Linked DNA regions of Homo sapiens: region 2 is linked to region 1. The links come from fine-mapping of genetic effects on gene expression. A gene starts in region 1. The other region holds a variant in brackets. All regions are shown on one strand. Distances are between the middles of the regions. Region 1 holds the start of ARHGEF38 (Rho guanine nucleotide exchange factor 38). Region 2 overlaps ARHGEF38 (Rho guanine nucleotide exchange factor 38).

Region 1 (2,921 bases):
GTTCAGACACACCTTGTGCTAAAAGCAGGAGAGGCAAGTTCTGGAGGACCACATAACAAGTACCGAAGAAAAGACTTAAAATGCTGCCCAATATCAACATCAAAATGAAATTTTACTAGAACAAATGACCTTCAGGAAACAGGAGAGAAAGAAAGGATAGATAGGACAGGATATAGATTAAGGCCCTGAAACAAATGATGTGCTATCATAACTGTGCCAAATTATCTTTGTACCATCACAAAATAAACTGAAGTTATTTCCTCAAATGTCATTCAAAATAAGCATGCTAAACATTTCTTACCATATTTGAGTATTATTCAATTTACTCAAAGGAAATAATCACCTAAGTGAATTTCAGCAAATCTTTTTATACCGTCTCTCTGACTATAACATTCCTTCTTTGTCACAGACACGATTATAGTTTCATGCCCCTATTTAAGATAACCACAATCATAGTTCAGTACCATTACCTAGATATATCTCATGGTGTAATATCACATATCTACCCATTGAGATAAACAATCTTTTGTAGGTTTCTAACTCATTTGCTTTCCAGTGTTTCCCACTTCTTAAGTTGGGTAGAGAAGGGAGAAGAAAAGAGGAAGTTAGAAGAAAAATGATTACCCTCACCAGGAAAAAAAAAAGAAAAACACAGCAATATTAAGAGTAATTCGGAATTGACTCTTTAACATTGAATCACGTAATAAATTTTTTTCCCTATAATTTATAGGTCACATTTACTTTCATCTTCTTATTTTGTGGGAAGGAGAGGTGGTATTCAATTTTCCCCTCTGCCTTGTGTGTTTTCTTTGCAATTGGAAACGTAGCAGAAATGGAGCTGGGAGTGCAGTAACTGGGACAATTGATTTCTTTTTGGTTACCTTGTAATTTCTGGTTGTATTCGGTCCTGTCAGATTGGCTCCTCCTCAAGGTGCCAGAGTGGTCCCCAGAAACACTGCTCTCAACCACAGTGTCAGTCTTCCTTCTCTCCAGCATATAGAGTCTAGACCTCAAGAAGGCCAGATTCTTTTTCTTGGTGACCATGTTTTCTTTCCCAGTGGCTTCTTTGGGCTCCATATTAGGCAAAGACAAGCTTTGGAGGCTTGCAGGCAATGGCTGATTGCTAAGGTGCCTCAGGGTGAGGGTTAAAGCTACTAGAGTGACGAGTTTATCTGCTCCCTTCTAACTAAACCGCTTCACTCCAGGGTTACCTGGCTGTGACTGCCACCACCTCTACGAAGTCCCAGAGCTCCACCCACATGAGGTCATTCTTTTTTAAACCTAGAATCCAACAGGGGAAGCTGCCACCTGTTACCTGAGAGACTTGCAGCACAGAGCTAGGCAAAGCAGGGACTGTGCTGTCACATGCTACTGAAGCAAACAAAAATCCTATTGTATGGGGTGAGGGGTGGGGAAAAAGGAAAATGAACAAGGTGAGGCAGTGAGGAAGGAAGTACACGTTAGCATAACCCGCCGTTTATGGGTTTAATGTGTGCCCATGGGTGTGTGCAGGTGCACTCAGGGCACTGTGTTGTGGTCTGCTGCCTGGAGGCAGACCAGGGCTTGTGCGTGGCTTTTGGCTAGAGTTACTCACAGGTGACCCACGGAGTCAGTGCAGGGGCTATGAGAATTTGCATTTGCATCAAAACGGTGAGTACAGAATCATTTTCAGTGATTACTGTGCACACTCAAAGTTATGCTTCTGCCTTTAAGCGTTGAACATTCAGCAATTATTTACTGAAAACATACTTGCCAAACCCTGATCCGCATTCCTGAGGAAATAAGGATTCACATGTGAGAGTCATCTGGCAGCAGGCAGAAGAAGTGGAGGGGAATGCCCATAGAAGCCTAGAGCCTTTTCAGATTTCTCACTCTCCACAGGCTGCCCTTGCCTGAAATTAATCCTTCCATGGTCCCACCCTGTCCTTTTATGTTTTGGTCCTTAGGAAAATAAGCCCCGTGTCAGGGTTCAGTTTCTATAAGATCTTTTCCCTGTCCCTTTCATAGACGGAGTGCCAGAAAAGGGCATCCCACCTTGGGAATTTAAGGAGAGGAAAAATGTTTGAAACTGAAGGGGCACTACACTTCTAGAAAGTAGAAAGGATAGGGCAGGGATTAAAAGAGAGAAAGGCAGACAGTGATAGGCCTTTCATTAATTTTTTTGAAGTTGTTTTTCCTCATATTTCCTGAGATCTCTCAAGGGAAAAATTCTAAGAAGCTCTGGGAATGTGCTGAGTGCTCTGTATGCCTTCGTTAAAGAAAAGAAAGACCCTAAGGAGGAAAATGGATTCTCTCCTATTGTAAAGGGACCACCAAAATCCAGCTCTGTGCTGACCAGTCTGAATCTTGCATAACTTCTGTTGGAAAAGATTTATAAATGAGGAGAAAGATGTAAAAGTCATTTCCCAGCTCAGGATGTGTGTGCTCAATATAGTTTGCATAATTATCTTAAAAGATAAATGACACATCTTCACCCACTATGGAGACATCTATATATAGCTTGGCGTATTGAATGGCTTTTATTTAATATAATTGATAGTCTTTTTTGAATAAATCCTCCCAAGTACATTTAATAAATACTTTTAAAGGCTTATTTACCTCTAAAATATAAAAGGAATTTTTTGGATTTATGTCAAAATGCCTCAATTGTGTTCGAATATTATATATGTATGAATGTATGTATGCATATACACACTTATTTATATTCACCTGGTAACCACCAGGGATTTATTTAGATACGGTATCACTGAAAAAAAAAGTTCAATTAAAACTACAGGACTTAATGGGTAACATGAGGTTTAGGACAGAGCACTCAGAAACTTTGTCAATGGACCATAAAAATCAGATCAAGACCTAATAAAAATGGTAGCAAGAATTTACACATGATAAATGCTTAAGAAATGCATAAATACTACAGCAAA
Region 2 (2,921 bases), 34 kb before region 1:
CTCAATATTCAAACATCTGTGGAGAGTAATTCCAGCATCAGTTTGGAAGCTATACTAGGTTGATCTTTGGACAATCCAGACCCACAGGTGAGTATGTTTGGAACCATTTATCGCCTACCAATCCCTCCTTCATCAGGAAAGCAGGAAGTTTTGACAAATAGCATCCAAAACCACATGGTTTTATGAGATTTGGGCTATTTAGTGCTAAGGAAATAATCCACATGAGGCCGGGAGCAGTGGCTCACACCTGTAATCCTAGCACTTTGGGAGGCCGAGGCAGGCAGATCACAAGGTCAGGAGATCGAGATCATCCTGGCTAACACGGTGAAACCCCATCTCTACTAAAAATACAACAAAAGAGCCGGGCGTGGTGGCGGACTCCTGTAGTCCCAGCTACTTTGAAGGCTGAGGCAGGAGAATGTCATGAACCCGGGAGGTGGAGCTTGCAGTGAGCCGAGATCGTGCCACTGCACTCCAGCCTGGGCGAGAGAATGAGACTCTGTCTCAAAATAATAATCATAATCATAAATCATAATCCACATGAGCTATATAAGAACAGATAATCTATTCAAGGAGAGAGAATGAATGCATGAGATATCCTGTAGCCCTCCAATCCTGATCTATATTATGAGAATTTGGGGGTGCTTGCTAATTTGTTTTTTTGTTTTTTGTTTTCAGAAACAGGTTCTCACTTTGTCAACCAGGCTGGAATGCAGTGGTGCAATTGCAGCTCACTGCAGCCTCAAACTCCTGGGCTCAAGCAATCCTCCCACCTGAGCTTCCCGAAGCACTGGGATTACAAGTGTGAGCCACTGCACCAGCCTAATTTGTAATATTTGCATTGGAAAGTAGAAGCAGCCTGCCTCTCAGTGCCCCAGATTTGAAAAAGCAAGTTACAATCACGTGTCATTACAATGAATTATTTTGGATATGAAAGAGGAAGACAGGACACCTTATGAGAGGAGCTGCAGTGAGGAGGCTGCATTGTGGCCCTTTCTTTTTAAAAATGTGTATATTCAAGATGTACAACATAATATTTTGATGTATTATACATAGTGAAATGATTGGGTGGGGGTGGGGGAGACTGAGGGCAGAGAGGTGTGAGGGACGTCCTTTACTCCTGGAGTATGTGAAATAGAGCACAGGAGGAAATCTCATGCGTAAGAGAGCTGACAAACCAGTATGGACACTGCCCAATTATCACTTAATGTTTCCTTGAAAATAAAAATGATGCTGATGAAAAACTGCTCTGACATTGCTTTTCCAGGTTCTAAACCTTCTATGCCTTATAAAATTAATCTATGAATTATTTGGGATCCTAGCAAGGAGAAGGAAGTTTTTCCTGATCGTCGACAAAGGAATATCCCTAAAACATGCATTTGGGTTCCTTTTAGTTCTAAATTCCAGGACTCAATCACAATGTTAACTTAACCTGCTTCACAGACGTTTCAGTTGCTGCACTTTAAAATGTACTACATCAGATTTTGTCAATTAAAAAATGCTTAGGTTTTCCAATACTGCTCAACAACTTGTTGAGAACAAATTTGTGGGGGCAAGGTGGGTGAAATAAAGTGTCAGTGAAAATACTCAACTTCTCCCTCAGGT[G/A]TAAAAATCTCTCAGAGAATTTACAGTTGAGCAACCTTATGAGATATCTTTGTTTGCTCTTTTGACTCAAGTTTATTGTAGGAACAAAAACTTCACTTGCATCATTTTATGGTCAGGTTTCTAAACACTTTCTATGTTTGCATTTCTTAAACCAACAAACTCTGCAATGCATTGTGGACACATTTTGTTTTTGTAAGATCTTTCTCTGCATTTAAACATTTTATCTTTTAGTTATACTTAGCTTTTATATATAAAAGTATTTGGAACTCAACAATATTGCCAACACATATCGCCCAAATCAGCAGTCAGCTATAGCCCGTCTTTTATTTCTGGATGAAGCAACCGAGGGGGCCTGGCGCAGTGGCTCATGCCTGTAATCCCAACACTTTGGGAGGCCGAGGTGGGTGGATCACCTGAGGTTAGGAGTTTCATACCGGCCTGACCAACATGGAGAAACGCCATCTCTACTAAAAATACAACATTAGCCGGGTGTGGTGGCACATGCCTGTAATCCCAGCTACTTGGGAGGCTAAGGCAGGAGAATCACTTGAACCCACCAGGCGGAGATTGCAGTGAGCCGAGATAGTGCCATTGCACTTCAGCCTGGGTGACAGAAGGAGACTCCATCTCAAAAAAAAAAAAAAAAAAAAAAAGCAACGGAGGGGCTATTTAGGAAAGAAGGAAAAATTGTTTTAAGAATAAATGTTTCCCAATAGTTTGCATATAATAAAATACAATGTCAAAGCCAAAGTGAAACTAAGGTTAAAAGGATATTCAGATTGCTATAACAGAAATATGCAGCTGTATATTAAAGCAGTACCATGTAATTGACTTCACTCTGTATTTCTTTCACACTCAAGCTTTATTTTTCCAGTGGTGATGTGAATTTTTACTATTCTAGCCACAAAATTCATTAATAATATATGTGGAGATTCCTGGCCAAGGAAGTTTATATAAAAAGAGGTTGTTGCAGTTTGGGAAAAGGATAATCTGACTTGAGATCAGCTCTGCCACTCAGCTGTGAGAACACAGTAGACTAATAACTAATAGTTATCCTCACAGAGCCTTGGTTTCCTTACCTGTAAACTATGCATGAAAACCATCACAGTGTGATCATGAAGACTGAATTAAATGAGCAGCTCCATGTGGAAGCTCCTTGAGATCTTTAAAACAATACAAATGTTAACTATTTCTGTGGGAATGGGAAAAATAGGGTTACTTTCTCTACAGTCTCAAACTCTTCCACCATCTAGAGCAAACAATTATCCCATTATTTTGTGGTTACCAACTTGTCAAGAAAAATGCATGACTCTAAA

The links.
Region 2: its variant is fine-mapped to the expression of ARHGEF38 in thyroid (GTEx, PIP above 0.99).

What each region holds. Positions count from the first base shown.
Region 1 is chr4:105,550,922-105,553,842 of GRCh38, reverse strand. It overlaps ARHGEF38 (Rho guanine nucleotide exchange factor 38), which reads right to left and starts at 1,223. Exons shown (of 14, transcript NM_001242729.2): 1 at 882-1,223. The coding sequence starts at 1,077. It overlaps LOC105377352 (a long non-coding RNA gene), which reads left to right and starts at 1,559. Exons shown (of 5, transcript NR_188418.1): 1 at 1,559-1,650.
Region 2 is chr4:105,585,064-105,587,984 of GRCh38, reverse strand. The region is part of intron 1 of ARHGEF38 (Rho guanine nucleotide exchange factor 38); the gene reads right to left. Among named protein-coding and RNA genes, the nearest start is that of ARHGEF38-IT1, 25 kb to the right of the region's middle. The variant G/A (reference allele first, on the strand shown) is at 1,606.